6 separate regions of the Homo sapiens genome follow, and regions 2, 3, 4, 5 and 6 are each linked to region 1. The links come from fine-mapping of genetic effects on gene expression. A gene starts in region 1. Each other region holds a variant in brackets. All regions are shown on one strand. Distances are from middle to middle.

Region 1 (4,091 bases):
CTGTGACTCTGTTACATCATTTAGCAAGTCTTTAGTTTTCCTGTGACATTGGCATCTGCAACTAGCCAAACTTTTTAATATAACTTATTTACATAAAACAAGTGAATCTAGAATATGATAAAAATCCCAAATTTTAATTCAGCACATATAAAACTGTTAGTGGTACCCCCTCCCCTCACCCCAATTTGGAAATACCATATTGATGGTCTTCATTGCCTTAAACAGGCTCCAAGCTGTGCTCTTGTAAGACGCTGGACTTTAAATCATAACCTTGCATAAATTCAAAACCAAATAAAAATTTTAACAAGACTTTTTCCTTTCAATACTAACTTTTTTTTTTACTTTCTAAGTAAAATGATTTAAACATTGTCTATTTTTAAGAAAGAGCAAAAAATGTGTTCACGGCAAGTTGGAACAGTGTGCAAATGCACTGGCTTCACTGTTATCTGGACAGCAAAGCATTAAATCACAAGGAGAAAAAAGTCAGCATGTTCTCTTAGAATACAAATAGGTTAGCGTCAGTAAGAACTTTGTCCAAAAAAGGGAAAAGACACCTACCCAGAGAATAAATCATGCATATGAAACCTATAATTTTAAGAAGTATTTTCAAGAAATGATATAGCTGATAAATATGACTGTGAGATAAAGCACAGAAAAAGTTCATGTGACTTTTTTTAAAGTGGACCTTCCAAATGTGATCAGTCAACATACCCCACTTTTTATCTATGATTCTTACATAAGATACAATTCACCAGTAGCTATGGAACTCACAGAAGAAAGTCTACATAGATTCTCTCTATCTGTCTGTCTCTGTCTCTCTGGACCTCTCTGTCTCTCTGATTCTGTGATGCAACAGTACTCAACATTATTAGGCACATAAGAACCTTAGGTTAAAATATGTAAAAAGTCCATATACCCGGACATATAAACACTCGTGGTCGTTTGAGATTCTGCAGATGTACAATATAAAGCTTTCTCACTCAGAACTTAAAAAAAAAAAAAAGAATTCTTCTTACCATATATTCCATATTTGCTGCCGGTGGGAACACTTTGCCCCGAACTTGATTATGATAATCAAGAATGGCGATCATGTCATTCTGCGAAATGTAGCGCTTCCGCCTGGCTTTGGGGATATCCGCTGAATCTAATTGTGCTTTCAGAGCTGCTTCAATATCAGTGAAATTATTGGTTGGCGGGGATGAGTCAGTGGAATTGAGTAGGACGACGGTACTTGCTTCACAGAGAAGGGAGAACAGGAGTGCACTGCTGACGGCAGAGATTGCTATCATTTTGAGGGGTGGAGAAGAAGAGGCCACCGAGTTTACTTTGCTTTAAAGCAGAAAGGTAGAGTTAGGGTCTATGAAAAAAAATAGGGCCAGAGGGTATGAATTTACAAAGACATCATTTGGGAGCATTGCTTGATTTGACTTTCTTCAAAAATCCAAACAAATGTTGAACTCAAGCCTAGGAGATAACCTACAGTAGAATCTCTATTCATTTTTTAGTGTCATGAGGCAGACCCCTAAGAGGAACTTTGTATAGCAGAGAAAAATAAACAGCATGACCACTAACCCTAAAATGAATGTGAACCATTTGCCCCAAATGTCTGAACCACAAAATATATTACTGCATATTTTCAGTGGGAAATTTTCAGCAATTGAAATTCACCTGGAGAGTGAAGAAAAAATGAATCACAGGTAACAACAGAGAATGTGCTGATAATGTCTGCCAGACATATAGACACACCAAGTGATAGAACACATACAAAAAAGTCATAGTAATCCAATCTCATTTCTTTAAAAAAATGTGAGCTACTTTAAAATCAATGCATGCAATATAAACTTGTTGAGCTAAATAGCTTACCTCTGCACAATGCCAAAATGAATATATTGTTCTTCCAAAAATTTAAGGTTCTTTGCTATGTGGTAGCATGAACTCTTGTAAGAGGAGTGTGTCTTTTTACAAACTCTCTGAGAGCAAAGCTCTGCAAGGTTTGAATGCTGCTGGCTAGAGGAGCAGCTAACAGCTTTTATATGTCACAGTTTGCAACGTCCAGAAAGGGCAGTCTTTCTAAGGGTCTCTCTTAGCCAAAATCAAAGGGGAGGGGTTTGGGGTAGAAAAAAACAGTGATTGGGTGGCAACCTTTTTATGTGGGTGGTGAGGAAATTGAGTCACACCCACAGCTTACAAAGTACAAGCCATAAAAGACAAACCCCTTTTTCTCTGGGCTTCCACCTTTTCTGTGAGTAATTTCTCTCATTTTATGCTTTCTAGTTCCTGGTTCCCATACAAAAAAGAAGAAACAAAGACAAAAAAAAAAAAGACTGTGGGTTCATGAAAAAACAGACAGTTGAGTAACAAGCAGTACATTTTTTTAAGACAGTAAATGACATGGGAGCTAAAAAGAACAAGCTGATATTAAATCAAGAGATCAGCTAACATAGTTAATCTGGGTGGCCACAAATATGATTCGAGAGGGATGCCAGGCAAATCGGTAGTAACCAAACTATAGCATATGATATTAGGATAATAGATGCTCAAGTGGCTGTGTTCTCTGCTTCCATGTGGCTGCATTCCTGTGCTTTATATATTTCTTCTTCTCTCTCTTATTTTACCTTCTCTCCCTTTTTTCTTTCTCTACAGAGTGAGGTCAGAAATTACTTGCTTTTTACCTGCCTTGTATAAAATGTGAATAGAGAAGCTCATGGCAAATGACAGCAGCCAAGATAACATCTGTTTCAGGTTTAGAGCATATAGTTGAAATTTTAAGCAGAGAATAGCTCAGCCTCTCAGGAAATGTATTAGAGGGCATAACACAGAGGCCATGAAGAATTTTAACAGCAGCAGCAGCTGCCAACAATTAGAAGTGCCTTGTTAGGAGGATGTCACAGGGGCAAAGTCTATGTCAGGCAAAGCAAGAAGAAGAATGTGAACATTGGTGCTCTATAATGAAAGGACCCTCCCCAAAATGCGTCATGATCTCATTAACAAAATGTGGACCACTTACAGTCAGTAGCAATAGGAATCCTGGAAAACACACGCTCTTCAGTTTAGAAACTTACTTAACTTACACTGATTTTTTCCAGCTTGCTAATGTGATTGTCTCCCACATGTTTCAGCAGAAGAAATACTATGTGAATTTACAGTCATCAGAAATGATGGTCATGTGGCACACTGGACAGGCAGCCAAGTTTCCTAGGATATATTCCCAGTTGGATCACGAGTAGTATGTGTGGTCAAATGCATACTGTTTAACTCTTCATTGGTGCACCTAAAAATGGGAGAGAAAAGATTCACGTTCTATGGTGAGACAGACATCATCAAGTTCTTTAAGAGGGTAGTGAGGTGTACCAGAGGTGTCACTAAAATTCAAACTACAGTGATGAGATACAGACTTTATAATAATATATACCAAAGTCCAGGTTTTGACACATTTTGATGACTATTCAACTCCTAACTAAAGTGAAATCATTTTAGGAGAGCCATAGCTGAAATATTGAGAGCTTTAAACAAGGAATTAATACTAAACTTGAAAAGGCATAAACAGATATATAAACTCAGGAGGTGAGCAAGGATATTATGAAACATTGGAGCAACTAGAGGAAATTCACATGGTTGTTCACAGCTGCAGATCTTAACAAGTGGAGCTGTCCAACTAGGGTTGCACCACTTTGGAAAGTATTCATGGCACCTTCAATGAATCTCAAATATGCTATATTAAGGATTCCTGAATTAAATCAGAGGTTAGATGAGAAACTCTCTGTAGGCCATCCAGCTCTAAGATCTGTGGACTTTTTGAGAAATTAGTGGCAGCACACATTAGCCTTTACTCTCTACATATCTCACACAGTTTCCCAGCTATCTGAGGAACAAAAGGACTTTTAATACCTGAACAGCAGTCATGAGCCTTTCATTCTCCAGGGTGACTGAGTTCTTGCTTAGAACCTCATAAGAATCGAAAGTTATATTTAAGACTACACCCTTTGTCATATACACAAAGAGGTATTGTCCACCTCTTGGGGTTTGACTTGAAAGATTTCCATAGGGATAAAAATGTGATGCTTGACAAACTTGTCTAAACCAAAAATGGA
Region 2 (4,091 bases), 270 kb after region 1:
TTTTATTTTTATTTTTATTTTTATTTTTTTGAGACGGAGTCTTGCTCTGTCGCCCAGGCTGGAGTGCAGTGGCACCATCTCGGCTCGCTGCAAGCTCCGCCTCCCGGGTTCACACCATTCTTCTGCCTCAGCCTCCCACGTAGCTGGGACTACAGGTGCCCGCCACCATGCCCGGCTAATTTTTTGTATTTTTTAGTAAAGACGGGGTTTCACCGTGTTAGCCAGGATGGTCTCAATCTCCTGTCCTCGTGATCCGCCCGCCTCGGGCTCCCAAAGTGCTGGGATTACAGGCGTGAGCCACCGCGCCCGGCCTGTCTAATCATATTTATTATAGATAAACCGGTAAGGGTCTCTATGGTCCTTGTATCATAGATTGGTCTCCTGCTAAAGTTACATTATTAATATGACATGGCTGCCTCTGAATCACACATAGTCCACAGCCCTGAACTTCAGCTTGTAATCATTGAGGTGCTTAAGTCCTACCACCTACATCTGTCCACCAGATTTCCCAGAATATTTGAACCATAAGCACAAATAGGATCTGATATGCAAGGACTCCAAACTTTAGTCCAATATGCTTGCCCATGTTCATTTCCCATCATTTCCTCCTAAAAATTGTATAACCTAACTACAATAGCTTCTACCATTTCTCTAAAAGCCTTGCATCATTATGCCTCTATGCCTTTGCTTACACCATTTCCTTCACCTGGAATGATGGTCGCTCCATCCAATTCATCTTTAAACCCCAGATAATGTGTCACCTGTAAAATAACCCCTGATCTGACCAAGTATAGCAGCTTGGTTATCCTGATTATTTAGCATGTATTACATTGTACGTTTAATTGTTCAGGTTAGTCTCTTCCATGAAACTGCATATTTCCTAAAGACAGGGAATGTGTCTTATGTTTGTAAACACAAGATCTACCTTAATCATAGACAGTACTCAACATTATTTGTTGAATTGATTTGAAATTGTATTGTCATAAATTCAGAAGAACTGTCCAAATTCTATTGCCAGCATTTGGTTACAATAAATTTTTTACAAGACCAATGTATATAGCTTGTTGCTATCTGGAGATTTTTAGGAATATGAAATTTTGCATAAGCAGATTTGATACTGAGGCATATAACAGAGGCCACCAAATTTTGTATTAAAGGAGGAGACCTCACAGCAAAGGGGGAAGGTTCCATGAAGCTACCAGCAACTTGACCTTCTCTATTGAGTAACCTCTACAGTCCTCCAGTGGAACAGGGGCAGGACCGTGATCTTTAATACACTTAAAAAGCAGCAAGGTATAATGAGTAATTTACCAAGGCCATAGTTTCTATCTGGAAAGAAAGCATGGAGTTTGGGGAAGTATATGGGATTTAGAGTTAGAAGGTCTGTGTCCTTAGCCCCAGTGACAGGATTTTTTTCAATCCTCTTTGGTGGGAAATGGTCTAAGTTAGTCACTGAACCTTCCATTACATAAACTAAAGGGGATGATAATACCCATCTCACCTATTTCATAGGAATTTTATTAAAATCAAATGAAGTTGCAAGCAAAATCCACCTTGTAAAACAAAATCAATGAGTCGTCACTGAATAATTGTAAAAACACAACTCTGTCCTACATGAAACCATGCCTACAAGTGAACATTTTTCTCATTACTAGAAAAGTCACTCTCAAATTTTAAACACAAATGTAGAAATAAAAATGCTTTTACTAGCTAGCCATTTTAGAGAGATTTTTAAAAGTATATTTACCCTAGACCTGAGAAACATTTCATATAGTCAGATATTTTCAATGCATGCCCAAGTATTTACTGGTAATTTCATGTCAGGTAGTTAAAAATCTGCAAAAGACATCAGTATTTATTGAGCCCTTAATATGTGAGAAGTGCCAGGAATATGACAGTGAACAAGATAGTTCACTTCCTGACTTCATGAAGTTTACAGAATAATGGGGATACACATAGGTAAATAGAATTCTTAAATCCTTATATTTTGTTTTACTTTTACTGGAAAAAAAAGAGTGATTTAATATTAGTACTTCATAAACTGCTAAACTGACAACTAAGTTGCACAAAAAAATCAAAGAGGTGGCAGCCAGGATTGTAAAAGTTGCCTAAAGGTCAGCCAGAGGCAGCCATTGCTGACTTGGAGTGGCTGTAGCATTCTGAAAGAATCCTGTACTTCAAACACCCTTTCTTACCTGCTTGCTGAGTGGTTTCCATGCAACGTATTTGAAAAGATTCAAGAAATTTATGCACAAAAAAGGAAAAAGAATCCACTGCATCTTTTCCTCAGTTTTAGTTCCAGGTCTTCCTCTAACAAGATGTGTGATGTTGGGCAAATCATGTAACTTCCCTGACCCTCAGTTCTCATAAAAATTGTAGTTTTGACTAAATGATTGTAACTCTCCTAGTTCTAGTGTCTAGTTGTCTCTCTCTTATTTAAATTGGAAGTTGGTATA[G/C]AGAATTAGAAGAAAACTTCAAAGTACTATAATAAATAAAAGATATAGGAATCCCCAGAACTCACAATAAATTCTAATACCATTATCATAAAGATGATACCAAAAGTATTGTTTCTTATAATGTGTATATTCTCTCCTTTTATCATAATTACTAAAAATATTGTATTATAGATCCTTAGCCCATTACTTCCAGCAATACACTGTATATAATTTCCCAGATAATGTGCAAAGTGTTTTTTCACCCTTTTTCCAGAAGCATGGCGATAAATGTAATTAATACAAAATGTTTTAAAACAAATAACTTTTAAAAAAAATTACTTTAGGCCAGGTGCAATGGCTCACGCCTGTAATCCCAGCACTTTGGGAGGCCAAGGTGGGCAGATCACGAGGTCAGGAGATGGAGACCATCCTGGCTAACATGGTGAACCCCATCTCTATTAAAAATACAAAATATTAGCCAGGCGTGGTGGTGCACACCTGTAGTCCCAGCTACTTGGGAGTCTGAGGCAGGAGAATTGCTTAAACCCGGGAGGCAGCGGTTGCAGTGAGCCAAGATTGCACCACTGCACTCCAGCCTGGGTGACAGAGCAAGAGTCCACGTCAAAAAAAAAAAAAATTACTTTTACTACAAGCAAACCCTGAAGCATCCTGGACAGTCTTGACCTGTGAGATACCCTCTTACTTCCACAGTCATGGAAACTATGCATTTTCCAGATGGCATATAAGACCCGATACCTATGTTTTTCTAGAATCCCTTTGCAGTGGACTTTTCTTCTTCCTAAGGCCCATGGTGCGTGCATGGTCTCTAATGAACAGATGGCACTTGGTCCCTGGATGAGCTCTTGTACCTGCAAATCTTGAGAGCTTGGAGACAAGCAAGAAAATCATTTCAGACCCTCTCCTCCACTGTCAGCACCACTTCCCCACCCCTTTCACCTTGATCTGCTTGGTTTTGTGTTTTTGGGAAAACCCACTAGTTATTGGTCACTACCTGCTCACAAGTCAATGTAATGCTCCCCGTCTTGTTTCCATCTTGGTTTTCCTTTGTTTAAGAGGATGAAGCCACTTAGGACCCCTATATGAATGAGACTTGTTTGGTTGAAAGTTGACCCAAAGTAATAAGTGGTTTATTGTAAAGAGGAAAGAGGTCTATAAATAGAAAACCCTGGGGGACTGAGGCTGGCCTCAGGACCAGGGAATAGCAGAACACAAGTGTGCAAGTCAGAGAACTAGCCAAGAGTTTATAATCAAGCTTCTAAACAGGAAGTCTCAATTCAACTTCAAAAATTACTTTATAAAGAATTCAAGTGCCATGAAGGCATGTTTTAACTTGGCTTCTTTGGCTCAGAATAGTGTATATTGGTATCTCTAGTGGCTATCCCCTTCCCATTGTTAAAAACAACATGTGAAAAATCCTACAAAATAGGTAAAACACATTTTAAAGTGCCATTGACTGCTGAGGCAACTCACTTAATATCAACAAGTCTCAGTTTTTGGAAGAGGTATTGCCACCCTTTCTAGTCTAATAGGGACTAGAAAGGGTGGCAATACTCTTCAAAAACTTCACAAGGAAGTTGTAAGGAATATATGAGATCATCTATATAAAGCCCTTTGTGAACAATAAATCACGATAAA
Region 3 (4,091 bases), 360 kb after region 1:
TGAAGTATTGACAGTTGATCATTAATGTCTATTTGGTAGGTACCATTTCTTCCCTACAGTGTATTTTTATAAAATTGCTTGCTTCTGCCCAATAGTCTCTAACTTACCATCAGCTGGAATGAACGATTTTTACCCTGTTCAACTCTACATGTCCCAAGGCACTAAGGAAAATAGGCTCTTCAAATGAAAACAGCTCAGACAATATTTGTTGAATTAAGTCATTAGATGTATTGAAGGAAATGCTCACAGGCCCAAGTCTCTTAAATTAATGCGAATAGCTCTTCTGTGGTAGCTCTCTGGTCCCTAAATTGATCTATTTTCTTAGTTTTCTATTATAGCTCCACTTAGAACACACAATCAATAAAAAATAAGTAGCCCAGCCCAGCCAGGAAGTACTTGACAAAAAATTAACTCTAGGCAAACAGAACTCAAGGAGTCACTATATATAGTTAAAATCACCTAGCCATATTCTTAACTCTTTTAAATCTTTATGTGTTAAAATAATAAAGTTTGTTTAGATACCATCTAACTGAAAGTTTGTTTTTATAAAATTCCATCTCTTAGTTCCATCTTTTTAAAAAAATTATTCAAGTTTTGATGTTTATTCTAAGACTCAGTGATACTATGATTTCATATACTTTTTATTGTTCATTTGCTGGAATAAAGAGAGGAAAATTTTATTCCTTAGGATGAAATGCTTTCTGCTGGAACAGAATTGTTTTTCTCATTCAAATCTTTCAGTGCTTTATGAGATTTAATGGCAATAAAATAGCTGCACCTGCATTTTTGTAGGAATGAAAAATACAAGTGAAACTGAACTGAGTTTGACCCATGGGGGTCAAACAGGAAAAATTCATTTGACACCATTAGCTTTGGGGTCCCATGTGAGCATGTAAAACACATTGTACTTCCCTGTCTGAGAGCATAATCAGAATCTATCCATACAATGCCAAACATGTGGAACATGAGCAACCCAATCAATTAGTCACCTAACATTTAGTCTGGATGATGCCAAACATCTGGATACTTGGAAATATCCAAATGAATGGGTGAACTTTTCACTTTTCTTCCGAATTTTTTTGGCAGCATATGAACACAGCCAAATGTGGGCACTTTGAATTGTGTTGTTATTTTTAGGCAACAGGTTCCAAAATCTCTTAAAAGACCTAGCTCCTCAATAGCCAAAGAAAATCTATTTACAATGCAGTCTTTCATGATTAATTTTGATAAAGAATTTATGTGTTAAAACTTACAATGGCAAAAATCAGGGTCATTAAATAATATGTATGTTTATTTAATAGGCTTTAGAGAGCAGAGCATTAATGTTCTGCTTTCCCGGGAAAGTATCTATATTAGGATAATCTGCTTAAGCTTATTATGTACCCCATTTTTAACTCAGCATGCTCCTGTGCCTATCCTCTAATCCTTTCCTTGCTGTCTCAGAGGTTTTTACAAGAGAAATGTGGGACAGATTTATGGCTAAGAGCAGAAAAATGAAGAGGGTAAGGGTGCAACGCCCAAAGGCCAAAGTGGGACAAAGCAT[T/C]GGCAGTGGCCTCAGATGCAGACTGACATCCAAGTGCTGGCAGAAGATGTTCTGTAGGGAAAGCCCAAGAGGATAGAGAATACCCTCTCCCAATACAAGGACAAAGCCTTCAGGAATGTAGACCAACTCCAAGAAAGTGGGAAGAGAAAGCAAAAAGCCCAGGGTCTGTGACTGAACATTTTAACACTGCTATTCTAATTCTCTTCCTTTTTGTCTTCTCTTCTCCTCTTTCTCCTCCACCTGTTTATCTTCCTTCTCCTCCTCTCTCTCATTCTCTCTCTCTTTCTCTGTATATTCATGTCCCCAAACATAACAGGTCAACTCCACAAATAGAACCTTTTCTTAGGACCCTACCACTCTTCATAACCACCATTCCATAGCTCATTTCTTCCTGGATTAACTCCTCAGGCCCCTGCAGGAACTTCATTGCCTATCCACTGGGCCCTCCTTTACTCCCTGCAGGCCAGTTTCTGTTCCTGCTGTTCAGTATTAGATTTTCCATTAAGCTAAGGAAGCTTAAGCTTCAGGGGCCCTCCCATAAAGGAGTCTACTAGCTGAGGCCCTGGAAGTGGCCCTGGCAATGTGTTCACATAGACATATGTTTTAGTAAAATTGGCGACATGACATGAAGTTGCAGGGTCAGAAGTTGTATTGTAATAGAGCAACTGACACCAGAATTGTGTTGAAATGGAGGAGAATCAAGATTTGGAAGGTTCAGAGCCAGAAACTAATCAGTAGAAAGTTACAAATGGAACATTCCCTTCTCATTGATGCTTAGTCAAAATAAATTTCTCCTTTATCAACAAATGCTTGATCAACATGACACATACAATTTAAGGAACATTATGTATTTCTTCCTTTTAATGGAGATCATAATGAATGAAATTAATCAGAATCCCCATTCGTGGGGCACACATCTATAGCAGTGCAATGAATACTAATATGTCTGCTTGAATTAACATGTTTTATGCATCCCAAATTATTGGATAGTATCTCAGGATATCTGATGCACTTTATCCTTATTAAAGACTAGATGTTGTACTCAATGCTGCCCACAGATTGCCACCAACACAGATAAATTGCCTGAAGAAACAAGTATTCCAGTGACAAAGCTCCTGCACATATTGCATTAGGAAGTAATCCAGTGGTGGCATAAGAGTAATTTATTCAGAATTATGTTGCTGAATATAATGTGGTTGTAATTTTAAGTACATTTGAATAGCTCCTGCGCATGCCTTAATTTCAAATTAATTTTGTACATTTTCAGAATTATTCATATAAAACATCAAATATATTCTAAAGAAGTATCCCAGTGGAAGCCAAACCTGTTAACCAAAAGAAATAAAATTGGCAGAAACTTCAAAATGTCTTTAAAGTGGAAGACAATTGTACTTTTCAATGTATAATTTGTTATTCCTTTTCTCACTCAATAAATATTCATTTTATTCCTATTCTTTTGCTTAAAGTCCCTAAATAGTATTAGTTTCTGGTTCCACAAACCCTGATTCACCCTGACTTCACCATTGCATTAGCGTTTCACAAATTGAAGTGCCAGAAGCTTCTGCCTCAGAATCACCTGGAGTGCCTGTCAAAATGCAGAATCCCAGACAAAACACTAGATCTATAGAATTACTATCCACAGAGGTCGCTCTGGGACTTGCATTTTTAAAAAGGTCTGTGTGTCATTCTTATGCACACTCAAGATTGAGAGATGCTGCTCTTTTAAAATGTTTTCTCAAAAGTGTCTGATAATCTATATCCTGCCAGCTCCCTTTCTCTAGGTCTCATTCTCCTCATTATTTCCATTATATATGACACTGATGAAGCTCTCTTTTTTTGAAAAGTAGAGCTTGTTTGAGTTATTTCTGGTACTTCTCTGCTTTTGTTTTCTTACCTCTTTTGGGCTTCCACCCACCAAGTGTTGGCACAGCACACCAGGGTCTGATTGTACCCCTCCATTTTTATGAATATTTTCTTGCCCCATTAGTGAACCAATTCACTATCAGACCCAGTTATCACCTGTATAGTTTCCAAGGGCTGCGCAAACTAATTACCAGAAACAGGGTGAGTTAAAACCACCAAAATTTTTTCTCCCATAGTCTGGAGGCCAAAAATCTGAAATTGAAATATCAGCAGGGTGTCTGGAGGCTCAGTGAAGAGCGTGCTGCTGGCCTCTTTTCTATCTTCTGTGGCTGCCTCTCAAATCCCCACCTGGTGTGTGTGCCTCAATTTCTCTCTTCTTATAAGGACACAAGTCATATTGGACTGGGGGCCGCTCTAATCCAATATGACCTCACTACAATTGATTCATCTGCAAAGACTCTATCTCCAAATAAGGTTAAATTCACAGGGTCCAGGTAGATAAGAATTTTGAGGTGACACTATTTAACCTGGTATATCATCCCTGTGGAAATGGATCCTTACAACTTGAGAACTAGTCTTGAAATGCTCCAATATCCCACTAAACTCAAGAAGAAACAAACACAATTCATCAAAGTATCTTCTTCTTTCCATTTGCTATACAAAACCATTCTTGAGTTGTGGATGG
Region 4 (4,091 bases), 220 kb after region 1:
AAAAATAGCATGCAAGTAATGGCAACCTAAACCACAGACTCTGCATCTTTGATGAGGGGAGGAAGGCGGGGTCCTAAGGAACCCAAAAAGAAGAGCTGTCTTCTAGAGAAATGAAGTTAGGGTGCAACAAGGGCCCATGTGACTGATAATCATGAAGGGCAGAATATGGGTCTTAAGACACAGTGACAAAAAACAATCAGTCATTTTGTTACCAGAAAGCCATTCTGATCCAGACCCTAAGGGACAGTTATTGAATCTCATGCAAGAAATTCAGGATGAGCTCACAGGGTAAAGTGAAAGCAAGTTAATTAAAGAAGTAAAGAAACGGCCGGGTGCGGTGGCTCACGCCTGTAATCCCAGCACTTTCGGAGGCTGAGATGGAAGGATCACTTGAGGTCAGGAGTTCAAGACTAGCCTGACTAATGTGGTGAAACCTCGTCTCTACTAAAAATACAAAAATTAGCCAGGCATGGTGGCACATGCCTGTAATCCCAGCTACTAGGGAGGCTGAGGCAGGAGAGTCGCTTGAATCTGGGAGACGGAAGTTGCAGTGAGCCAAGATCGCGCCATTGCACTCCAGCCTGGGCAACAAGAGCAAGACTCCGTCTCAGAAAAAAAAAAAAAAAAAAAAAAAAAGTAAAGAAACAAGGCCGGCCCAGAGCAGCTTGAGCAGCCGCAGTCTGCACCCTCTCCCGCCCGCCCGCCCTCCACGGCACCCCCACCCGCCCCGGGGTCTCTTTCCCCCTTCCTCCTCCTCCTCCTCCACCCCACCTTCCTCCTCCGCCCGCCCGCGGGGCCCCCCCTCACCTTCCCGCCTGCCCCTATTGTTCCGCCCCCGGCCTCCCGCCCTTCCCCTTCCAGCCCATTCCCCTTTTCCCCTCAGTCGCCTCGCGCCAGCAGTTTTTGGCTTTCACCCCCCATCAGTGACCAAAGACTTGACCACTCAAAGTCCAGCTCCCCAGAACACTGCTCGACATGGAAACCAGTGTGATTGAAGGTGGATTAAATATCACTCTCACCATCCGACTACTTATGCATGGAAAGGAAGTTGGCAGTATCATCGGAAAGAAAGGAGAATCAGTTAAGAAGATGCGCGAGGAGAGTGGTGCACCTATCAACATCTCAGAAGGGAATTGTCCTGAGAGAATTATCACTTTTGCTGGACCTGCTAATGCCGTCTTCAAAGGCTTTGCTATGATCATTGACAAACTGGAAGAGGACATAAGCAGCTCTATGACCAGTAGCACAGCTGCCACTAGACCCCCAGTCACCCTGAGGCTGGTGGTCCCTGCTAGTCAGTGTGGCTCTCTCATTGGAAAAGGTGGTTGCAAGATCAAGGAAATACGAGAGAGTACAGGGGCTCAGGTCTAGATGGCAGGGGATATGCTACCCAACTCAACTGAGCAGGCCATCACTATTGCTGGCATCCCACAATCCATCATTGAGTGTGTCAAACAGATCTGTGTGGTCATGTTGGAGTCCCCCCCGAAGGGCGTGACCATCCCGTACCAGCTCAAGCCTTCCAGCTCTCCGGTCATCTTTGCAGGCGGTCAGGCCTATACCCTTCAAGGACAGTTTGCCATTCCACAGCCAGATTTGACCATGCTGCACCAGTTGGCAATGCAACAGTCTCATTTTCCCATGACGCATGGCAACACTGGATTCAGTGCAGGTTTGGATACATCTGCTCAGACTACTTCTCATGAACTTACCATTCCAAACGATTTGATTGGCTGCATAATCGGGCGTCAAGGCGCCAAAATAAATGAGATCCGTCAGATGTCTGGGGCACAGATCAAAATTGCGAACCCAGTGGAAGGATCTACTGATAGGCAGGTTACCATCACTGGATCTGCTGCCAGCATTAGCCTGGCTCAATATCTAATCAATGTCAGGCTTTCCTCGGAGACGGGTGGCATGGGGAGCAGCTAGAACAATGCAGATTTATCCACAATCCCTTTCTGCTGTTCACCACCACCCATGATCCATCTGTGTAGTTTCTGAACAGTCAGCGATTTCAGGTTTTAAATAGTTTGTAAATTTTCAGTTTCTACACACTTTATCATCCACTCGTGATTTTTTACTTAAAGTGTTTTAATTCCTTTCTCTGTTCAGCTGTTGGTGCTGAGATCCATATTTAGTTTTATAAGCTTCTACCTGGGATTTTTTTTTTTTTTTTT[G/TG]GTGTTTTGTTTTGTTTTGTTTTGTTTTGGCTCATGAATTTTTCTGTCTGTCATGGAAATGTTAAGAATGGAATATTAATACATTTCAGTTTAGTACTGTAAAGTCAGGAATTTTTCAAAAAAATTTAAAAATGGACTGGAGCTTTTTCTTTGTGAATAGAAAAAAGAAAGAAAGAAAGAAAGAAAGAAAGAAAGAAAGAAAGAAAGAAAGAAAGAAAGAAACACGGCCGGGCATGGCAGCTCACATCCATAATCCCAGCACTTTGGGAGGCCGAGGCAGGTGGATCACAAAGTCAGGAGTTTGAGACCAGCCTGGCCAACATGGTGAAACTCCGTCTCTGCTTAAAAAAAAATACAAAAATTAGCCAGGCATGGTGGCATGTGCCTGTAATCCTAGCTACTTGGGAGGCTGAGGCAGGAGAATTGCTTGAACCCAGGAGGCAGAGGTTGCAGAGAGCCGAGATCGCGCCACTGCACTCCAGCCTGGGCAATGGAGCAAGACTGTCTCAAAAAAAAAAAGAAAGAAAGAAAAGAAACACAAGAATGGCCACTCCATAGGCAGAGTAGCTGTTGGTTGTCTATTTTTATGGTTATTTCTTGATCATATGCTAAACAAGGGATGGATTATTCATGAGTTTTCTGGGAAAGGGGCAGGCAATCTCTGGAACTGATGGTTCCTTCCCTTTTTAGACCATATAGGGTAACTTCCATACCTTGCCACGGCATTTGCAAATTGTCATGATGCTGGCAGGAGTATCTTTTAGCATGCTAATGCATTATAATTAGCATCTAATAAGCAGTGAGGATGATCAAAGGTCACTTTCATCACCATCTTGGTTTTGGAAGGTTTTGGCAGGTTTTGGCCAGCTTCTTTACCACATCCTGTTTTATCAGCGGGAGCTTTGTAACCTGTATCTTGTGCTAACCTCCTACCTCATTCTGTGACTAAGAGTGTCTAACCTCCTGGGAATGCAGCCCAGTAGGTGTCAGTCTCATTTTACCCAGACCCTATTCAGGATGGAGTCTCTCTGGATTGAACACTTTTGACAATTTCAAGTGTGAAAACTAATTAAAATTTACTAGAGTAGAAGTTCTAAAATACAGGCATTGACTTGTGAATAATCTGCTTTTCACTTGGACAGTGAAGTATGATTCTAGGGGAGAAGATAATGAGATTTATTCACTTAAATATGATTAATAATGCTCCTGAGTAATGTAAGACAAGCCAGTCAGAATCTGGTATTAGTAAGTACAGTCAGCTAATGCCAGCTCACCATCAAATCAAGTATCAATTAAATGTTTACTGTGTTGATATTTTGCTGTAGCCTAAGGGATACAAAAAATAGTAATACTGAGCTCTTATCCTAAAATATGCTATGATTTAGTGGAGAAAACAAGAAAGGTTTTGTACACATATTAGGAATTAACTATTTGTCAAAAAAGCATTAATCAATATAATTCAATATAAAGTTTGATCAATATTATACCAGAAGATCCTTGGGCAAATGGAACTGAGAGAGATTTACTCCTATTGAAGACACTGAAGAAAACTTCCTAAAGAACTGGGCCTTGGAATGTGGGGTGATTTTAACACGTACAGATGAGGGAGTCAAGCAGTCTCTGTAGGAGACAGGAAAATGTATGCCACTCACAGCCTACCCCTTATGTTATGGGCACACTCTCTTATACAGAATAGCATGAACAAAGACACCAAAATGAGAACAAGAAGAACAAGTTCCAGGAATGGCAATTCCAGTTGGAGTGCTTTGAGACATAATAAATTTGATAAAGCTTGAATGATTACAGACAAATGGTAGTGGACTATGAATTTAAGAATAAGAGGTTTGGCCTCTGCAGTAAAGATGCTTATATAAATACAAATAATTAAGAAGAAATTGAGGAAAGAAAACA
Region 5 (4,091 bases), 190 kb after region 1:
TGGTAAAACTGTTTTCCGAGAAAAAATGTAAAAGCATCCTAAATTCAAGGACAAAAATTTGCAGAATTGGTGGATTATTGGAGCACCACACAGTGATAAATACATTAAAGGCTATCATCCCAGCAGGACTTGGAACAAGGTAAAGTCTACAGAAAGGTAAGTAAAGAACAGGTCAACTTCTGAACCTTCTGGATCCCCCTCTAGAAGAAACAAAATGAAATTACTCCAATTATTTTCGGACACTGAGGCCAAGCGTGGCTTACTAAGTTCTAAAATGGTGTCTCACCCCTCATGGAAAGAAAAAAGAACTGAAATAGAGGCAACTGAGGACATCTTGGAGGACAAGACATGAGCCAGGAAGGGGGCCTGACACAGAAACAGAGATAAGGAAAGAAATGATGAGTTTGTTTGCTCTTTCTGTGAAAGTTTTAATTCCCACATTTCCATTACTTAATATGTCATTATTTTACTTTTCAGAAATTGGCAAACCAAAAGCATTCCACCATTTATTTTAAAACTTGTAGTCAACACACATCAGACTTTTATATTGCCTCAAATAAAAATTCTCTAAAGAATCAAATCTAAAGCTGTGCTATAAATTTCCCTGGGGAAGTTAATCCTAAAGTTCTTAGACATCAATATATGCTCCTGACCAAAGGTTGGATTTCAGAGGTCATGATGACATAGATTGATAAAATCCTGCTGCGTAATCCAGCCACGAATTACGTGTTGACATTGATAAGCAACATTTTTCATTGCCTATTAAATAAAGGTCAAATTCTTCAGCCTGGCATTAAAGATGACCCCAGTTTGAATTTCGAACTTTATTTCCCTCGACTCTAGCCAAGTGGAACAAATTGTGTTCTGTGCATGTCCTTTAATTTATTGTCTTTATGGTTTTGCTTACAGCTCCTTTCACTTGTAATTCTCTTTCTTTCTATATCTGTGGATCCCAAACTTATCCAGTAATTAAGGACCAGTGCAAATGACATCTCCATTGGGCCTCCAAATACCCAAAGAGCTGAAAATGTACTCTTTCAAATATCTCCTAGACACCTGACAAACTTCATCTCATGTTATATTTATTTATGTATGTTTAATGCAATTCACTAGAGGTAAACCTTCCTGACGGTAAAAAAAAAAAAAAATCTGTTTTTGTGCTTTCTGTACCTAATATAGTGATTTGCACATAATAGGTACCCATAAATATTTCATAATTCTACAATTGTGGAACTGTTATAAGTATTCAGTCAAATGAGACCATAATACCCTTTTGGTATGCTGTTCTCCCTTTTTCTCACATTTCCATTCACCCCCAACCCCCCAAATTTCTCTAAAATCCTAATAAGTCATTTTCACTGTAACTTACCTTGTTCTTCATGGAATTATTAGATAAAAATTAGACTAATGAATATACATTTTCCTTCTTTTGAATAAAAATAAGCCATATTCCTGACATAATGTCCATATCTGACATTCAATAAATAATTGAGGAAAGAGTGGATCAATTAATCAATCAATCAATTGCCCTGCCAAAATCTCAGTGAATCTAGCATGACTAGCATAAAGCTATGGACCCCTCAGATTTCGTTGTCCGTTTCTGTCTTGCGATACCTATGAAGTAGTGGTAGATGTCTCCTGATTGTATACAGTGGTCTTATAAATTGAATAAGAGCAGTGTATTAACAGATTACATGATGTTGCTTCCTTAAAGATAATGTCTTTACTCACTCATGGTAACAAAAGTGTAATTTTGACTATATTAAGCCATATAAGTCCCCAAGGGGACTCATCCCAAGATTAAGCACTGAGTAAATATTACAATAATTGCTGCTGCTACTTGAAAACGATAGTAAAACTCAAAAAAAAATTTAAGGTGAAAATGTATTAAGAATGTATTAAGAAATTATTTTGCAAGAGTTCTAAATTATGACAGCTTATAAGTAAAGATACAGGTGACGGGTTATAATCTGTCAAATACTACATGATGTCAGCAACAAGTTTCTCCTGCCTTTGGCCCGACTATTTGGGCATAGGTTGTCTATGTAAACCTCTGCCTTGTTGTCTCTGCCTCAATTAATAGCTTACTAATACACTGGTAATCTGGTCTTTCTAATTCTGGGAACTGGCAAGTCTTTTCAATCCCTTTCTCCAACCTAAACTGAAATCTCTTTCCTGAATGCCTGTTCTAAGTATTGCTAGTTCCTGAATTCTCCAATAGCATGCCCTCCCTACATTTCAGGAAGCCTAAATCTGAAGAGCAAGCATGCTTTCTACAAGTGTTAGAATAGATAGTAAAATGAGAATCAAGCCTCTCCAC[C/T]TTACTGAAATAACTTAATGTCCTCCTCCTCCTCCATTAGGCTCCCAGATATTTGAGGAAAGAAACTATTAATTTAACTTTCATTCTCCCTCTTAAAAGAGGCTCGGTACATCTAATGTGCCCAGTGATTGTTGAATAAGCCAATGAAAGACTGCATTAACCAACTTAGAAATGTACAAACCATTCTTAAGTTTACAGAGCATTATATCTCCATTATGTTCTTCATCCTTGTAGTAGTCAAAGGCTCATAGTTACATCTCTGAATGTCTTTATAACCAGCCAATTGCATACCAATACATCTATCAGGACAATCAACAATATAAGCCTAGAACTAAGTTACTATCTTTAGCGTACTCAGCATCAATGCTGAGTGCAGCCCCAATGAACAGTACACATGCAAACAAATACCTAAACAGATGTAACAGAACTAGTAGTACATTGAGCCTAGGAAACGCATAACAAGTACAACTCATGCAAGTGACATGACAATGCTAGAAATCAATCTCTGCCGTCATTTAGCAAGGTAAGATGGCATTCTGAGGAGGAGCCTTGTGATTAGGGAATGGGAATAAGCCAGAACAACAGCAACAACAAAAGTAGCTTGTGAGTACCTGGTACCAGAGTGCTGACTTTTTCTTACTTGTGCCTGACAAGTCATAATGCCTAAGAACTACCACCAGGGGTGTCACAATGGAGAGTAACGTACACTAGAAGCACCTAATGAGGAATTAAGAGTGGGATGTGTGCTGGAAAGGGTTCACACATATAATCCCAGCACTTTGGGAGGCTGAGGTAGGAAGATCGCTGGAACCCAGGAGTTCAAGACCATCCTGGGTAATATGAAGAGACCCTGTCTCTACAAAAAAACAAAAAAGAAAACCATTAGCCAGGGGTGGTGGCACATGCCTGTGGTCCCAGCTACTCAGAAAACTGAGGTGGGAGGACTGCTTGAGCTTGGGAGGTTGAGGCTGCAGTGAGCCATGATCAAGCCACTGTACTACAGTCTGGGCAACAAAGCAAGACCCTGTCTCAAAACAAACAAACAAACAAACAAATAAAAGAGTAGGATATATCATATAGTCATGGGAGAGGAATTATCAAAGTTGAGTCCTGAAGGTTGAACCAGACTAGTGAGGAGTGGTGAGATGAGAGCCAGAAAACAGAGACAGCCTGGGAGTCATTGGCTATATCATAAAACAGAGACTATTATAAAAACAGTGAGGTAGGGGTCCGATCAACACGAGCTGATTATGCCAAGATAAGAAGTTTGTCTTCAGAGAAAAGAGCCATGTATAATATTTCTTCCAGTTCCCATGATAATTATCTCACCCAGGGAAATGGGGAAAGGCTAGCACTGGCAACCTAAATATTCAGAATTACATACAGAATATTGGTGAAGGATAACATTAAAGTCATACCAAATATATTTACATTTAGATGTTGTATGTGTTTTACTTTCAAATATGCAGCAAATTATAATTTTTAAGCCTGAAGTTTAAAATGCTTTTATTTCCAGAATTAATATAACTTTTTTCTCCCTAAGTAAGTTTTTTTTTCAATCCCTAGGTAAGATAACAGCACCTCAGAGAAGATTTGGAAAATAAATGAGCTGATGAGAGGTAAGTATAGCACTCAGGGAGAGACACGGGCCAAGCAGGCTCTCCCCTGAAAGAAACTGCGGGGCCACTATAGGATAATAAGCCCCAATCACAAACGCAGGCTCTGGTGGCCACACATCCTGCTGGTGGCACCCTGAGACCAAACTTGCTCC
Region 6 (4,091 bases), 370 kb after region 1:
GAGCAACAAAGAGTAATGGTAATAAAATAAAATGAAGAGTCTCAGTAGTCCATGGGAAAATATCAAATGGCCCAATTTATGTGTAATTAGAAATCCATGCATTGAAGAAAGAGAAACATGGACCAAAAAAACAATACTTGAGGAAATAATGGCCAAAATAGTCACAAATGTAGCGCAAAATATTGGCTTAAAGAACAAAGTTCATAGACTTTCAAGCAGTATAAAAATAAAGAACAGCAGCTGGGCGAAGTGGCTCATGCCTGTAATCCCAGCACTTTGGGAGGCCGAGGTGGGCAGATCACAAGGTCAGGAGATCAAGACCACCCTGGCTAACACAGTGAAACCCCATCTGTACTAAAAAATACAAAAAATTAGCCGGGTGTGGTGGCGGGCGCCTGTAGTCCCAGCTACTTGGGAGGCTGTGGCAGGAGAATGGCGTGAACCCGGGAGGCAGAGCTTGCAGTGAGCCGAGATCGCGCCACTGCACTCCAGCCTGGGCGACAGAGCAAGACTCCGTCTCAAAAATTAAATTAAATTAAATTAAATTAAATTAAATTAAATTAAGAAAATAAAGAGCAGCATACCAAGGCACATTTATGTCAACTGCTATAAAACAAAAGCACAAAGGTAATCTTTTAAAAAGTCAGAAGAAAAAAGACACATGCACTTATGGTTACATCAGTAGGAATGACTGCTGTATTATCCAGAACAATGGAGGCCAGAAGAAAAAAAAAAATCTATCTTTTTCCATTACTGAAAGAAAAGGCTGTCAACATAGAATTCTATACCAGTGAAAGCATCCATCAAAAAAGAATGTGAACTAAGGATATGTTAAGATAAACAAAAAACAGAAGGCTTCATGCCAATACATCTAAATTTTTTACAAACACAAAGAAAGTTATTTAAGTTAAAAGGATATGAAACCAAATGGAAACTCAGGTCTATAAAAAAATTTTTTTAATGGTAAAAATGTACTTAAATAAAATAACCTTTGTTCTTCTCTTAACTCCTTTCATTTCCTTTTTTTTTTTTTTTTCTGAGACAGGGTCTCACTCTGTCGCCTAGGCTAGAGTGCAAGGGCACGATCTTGGCTCACTGCCACCTCCACCACCTGGGTTCAAGCGATTCTCCTGCCTCAGCCTCCTGAGTAGCTGGGATTACAGGCATGCATCACCATGCCCGGCTAATTTTTGTATGTTTAGTAGAGACAGGGTTTCACCATGTTGGCTAGGTTGGTCTCAAACTCCTGGCCTCAAGTGATCCACCCGCCTCAGCCCCCTAAAGTGCTAGGATTACAGGCATGAGCTACCATGCCCAGCCTCTTAATTTCCTTAAAGCAAAATTTGTTGATTTGCATAAACTTACAACATTTAAGATTTGTGTGTAACAGATGTAGATATAAAATGTATGACAAAAAGGATGGATGTAGATAGAGCTATATCATTAAAAATGTCTTACATTTTAAATGAAGTCAGTAAAATATTAACTCCAATCAGCAAAGAGGCATTGGTAATCTCTAAAGAAAACAGTAAAAAAGTAATGCAAATTTGATAGATAGATATTTTTAAATAGTTATAATTAAAATAAATTTAATAATTAAATAGAATGCTAAAATAATTTGATTATCCCCAAAGAAAAAGAGAACATAAAAAGGAAAAAAAATACATTATTCAAATAAACAATAGGAAACGGTGGACATAAATCCAAACATATCAGTAATTATATTAATGTAAATAAACTAAAAGCTGCAATTAAAAGAGATTGCCAAATCAAATATCTAAAAAGTACAACTACAAGATATATACTTTACAGATAAAATCACATAAGTAAAACATAAAAAGATGGAAAGAATATTCCAGGCAAATGCTAAGCCAAGGAAACTGAAGTGGTTACATCAATATAAAAAAGTAGACTTCAAAATACTACCAGAGAAATGTGTATGTGTCTAATATGCATTTAATACATCTAATATACAGTCATTCAAATCCATAAAACAAAAATTAACAGACCTCAAGGGACAAAAAAGATCACATTCAGAATTGAATATTTTAATACATCTCCTTCAGTAATTGATAGATCACCTAGAAAAAAAATCAGTAGATATATAAACCACTTCAACAATACTATAAATGATCTTTATCTAACATTTATAGAACATTAAAACTACATCTCCAAAATATACACATTATTTTTGAGTGCTTATCAGATGCTCACAAAGATGGACTATATCTTAGGTAATAAATGTAATACATCTTAATAAATGCCCAAAGATTAAAATCTTACAGAACACGTTATCTAACAACAGTGGAATTAAATGGGAAGTCAATAATAAAATATATATTTAAACCGAATATGTGGAAATTGAACAAGACACATATAAATAAACCATGAAAAAAAAAC[C/AC]AAAGGAAATATTTCAAACTGAATAATGATAAAACACAACATATCCATTTTCTGGATCCAGCTAAAGTAGTATTTTAATGGGAATGTATCATTTTTTATTTCTACATCTGAAAAGTAGAAATTTCTAAAATTGTTTTCATTCATTTACTCACAGAATAAAGCAGAAAACCATATGATCACCTAAAAGATGCAGACAAAACCATTTAACACTCATTTATTATTTAAAATTAAACTCTTGGCAAACCAGAAACTTAAAGAAATTTTACAACATTCTACTTGAAATTTTAACAAAGCAATAAGGAAAGAAAACAAAAAAAGTCAAACTAATTAAAATAGGCCAAAAACTGCCCTTATTCACAGATGACATGATTCTGCACATAAAAATACAAAAACAGTGACTATAATTAATATATGAGCTTAGTAAAGTTGCAGGATACACTTACCAATACTGTGCCATATTGAAAAATAAAATTTGTGAGCAATTACATTTATAACAAAATTTAATAACATAAAAAACATAAAATACTTGGGAATAAATTTAACAAAGATATGCAAATTCTCTGAACTAAAAACTACAAAACACTGTTTAGAAAAATCTAAGACCTAAATAAATGAAGATATATACCATGTTCATGAATTTGAAGAGTCAGTATTGTTAAGATAGTTCTTCCCAAATTGATCTATAAATTCAATGTAACTCCTATCAAAATCTAAAGAGGTTTTCAAATATAAACTGACAATGAGAATTATATTTAAACACAGAAGAGCTTGTATGTCAAAACAATCATGAAAAAGAATAACAAAGTTGATTCAACTTTGATTTTTAGAGTTACTTTTCAGCTATAGTAATCAACACGGTGAATTAGGATCATAAATATAAGCAAATAGATCAATAAAATAGAACACAACCCAGAAACAGATTCAAACATATATAGTCAATAGATTTTTGACAAAAATGTTAAGATTATTCACTGGGGAGGAAAGGTTTTTTAATAAAAGATACTGGAAGACCCAGATAAATACATAGAAAAAATTAAACCTTGGAGCCTCCTTCACACCATACACAAAACTTACTTGAAGTTGCCTAAATGTAAAAATAAAAACTATAAAACTTCTAGAGGAAAACAATACAGTAACACAGTAAGCAAATTAGCACTGAACACTTTTTAATTGCTAATTTGGACTTCATAAAATTAAAATGTCTAATAATCAAAAGCCATAATTAAATATATGAAAAGCCCCACACATTGAGAGAAAATACTTGTAATGCATATATCTGACCAAAAAACTCCTACAATCAACTAACAGACTACGTAATTCTTAAAATAAGTCAGGACATGAAAGACCACATTGTATGTGACATTCAAAAGGCCAATAAGCACATGAAAAGGTTCTCAAAATCAAGGAAAGTCATCAGGGAAAGGCCAAGTAAAACCACAATTAGATAACATTTTACATCCACTAGATTGGCTAACAACAGTAAAACGAACAACAATAAAATGTTAGTGAGGACATGGAGCAACTAGAACACTCATTCACTACTAGGGAGAGTGTACACTGGTAAAACACTTTACAAAATTATTGTTAGTTTCATTGTAAATATCAAAGAGAAATGAAAATACATGTCCAAAAAAAGAACATGCATCACAGCTTTCTTTCAAAACTACCAAAACTAATGTCCAAATGTCTGT

Direction of the effects. Positions count from the first base shown, and alleles are read on the strand shown. Sizes are in standard deviations (SD) of each study's normalised expression. Not every link is listed here.
For the expression in thyroid of the gene that starts at base 2,005 in region 1, allele G in region 2 goes with a lower level than allele C (moderate effect, 0.66 SD a copy in GTEx).
In carriers of allele T in region 3, the expression in nucleus accumbens of the gene that starts at base 2,005 in region 1 tends to be higher than with C alone (moderate effect, 0.43 SD a copy in GTEx).
For the expression in subcutaneous fat of the gene that starts at base 2,005 in region 1, allele T in region 5 goes with a higher level than allele C (large effect, 0.80 SD a copy in GTEx).
With allele C in place of AC in region 6, the expression in prefrontal cortex of the gene that starts at base 2,005 in region 1 is higher (moderate effect, 0.42 SD a copy in CommonMind).

Evidence for each region. PIP is the estimated chance that this variant, and not a neighbour inherited with it, causes the effect. A credible set is the group of variants that fine-mapping cannot tell apart.
Region 2: its variant is the best candidate, but not a certain one, in a credible set for the expression of PI15 in thyroid (GTEx, PIP 0.58).
Region 3: its variant is the best candidate, but not a certain one, in a credible set for the expression of PI15 in nucleus accumbens (GTEx, PIP 0.69).
Region 4: its variant is the best candidate, but not a certain one, in a credible set for the expression of PI15 in iPS cells (PhLiPS, PIP 0.64).
Region 5: its variant is the best candidate, but not a certain one, in a credible set for the expression of PI15 in subcutaneous fat (GTEx, PIP 0.72).
Region 6: its variant is the best candidate, but not a certain one, in a credible set for the expression of PI15 in prefrontal cortex (CommonMind, PIP 0.58).

The regions. Positions count from the first base shown.
Region 1 is chr8:74,822,448-74,826,538 of GRCh38, reverse strand. PI15 (peptidase inhibitor 15) reads right to left here and starts at 2,005. Exons shown (of 6, transcript NM_015886.5): 1 at 1,864-2,005; 2 at 1,017-1,329. The coding sequence starts at 1,289.
Region 2 is chr8:74,548,471-74,552,561 of GRCh38, reverse strand. MIR5681A (microRNA 5681a) reads right to left here and starts at 4,019; the gene lies at 3,945-4,019. It overlaps MIR5681B (microRNA 5681b), which reads left to right and starts at 3,953; the gene lies at 3,953-4,012. The variant G/C (reference allele first, on the strand shown) is at 2,457.
Region 3 is chr8:74,458,527-74,462,617 of GRCh38, reverse strand. It overlaps a transcript of GDAP1 not described here. Among named protein-coding and RNA genes, the nearest start is that of MIR5681A, 88 kb to the left of the region's middle. The variant T/C (reference allele first, on the strand shown) is at 1,544.
Region 4 is chr8:74,601,129-74,605,219 of GRCh38, reverse strand. The region is part of intron 1 of MIR2052HG (MIR2052 host gene); the gene reads right to left. It also overlaps the pseudogene PCBP2P2. Among named protein-coding and RNA genes, the nearest start is that of MIR2052HG, 3.4 kb to the right of the region's middle. RefSeq lists an enhancer at 2,537-3,736. The variant G/TG (reference allele first, on the strand shown) is at 2,181.
Region 5 is chr8:74,632,298-74,636,388 of GRCh38, reverse strand. All of the region lies in intron 2 of MIR2052HG (MIR2052 host gene), which reads right to left. LINC03071 (long intergenic non-protein coding RNA 3071) reads left to right here and starts at 3,057. Exons shown (of 7, transcript NR_183468.1): 1 at 3,057-3,154; 2 at 3,887-3,939. The variant C/T (reference allele first, on the strand shown) is at 2,321.
Region 6 is chr8:74,448,397-74,452,487 of GRCh38, reverse strand. It overlaps a transcript of GDAP1 not described here. Among named protein-coding and RNA genes, the nearest start is that of MIR5681A, 98 kb to the left of the region's middle. The variant C/AC (reference allele first, on the strand shown) is at 2,401.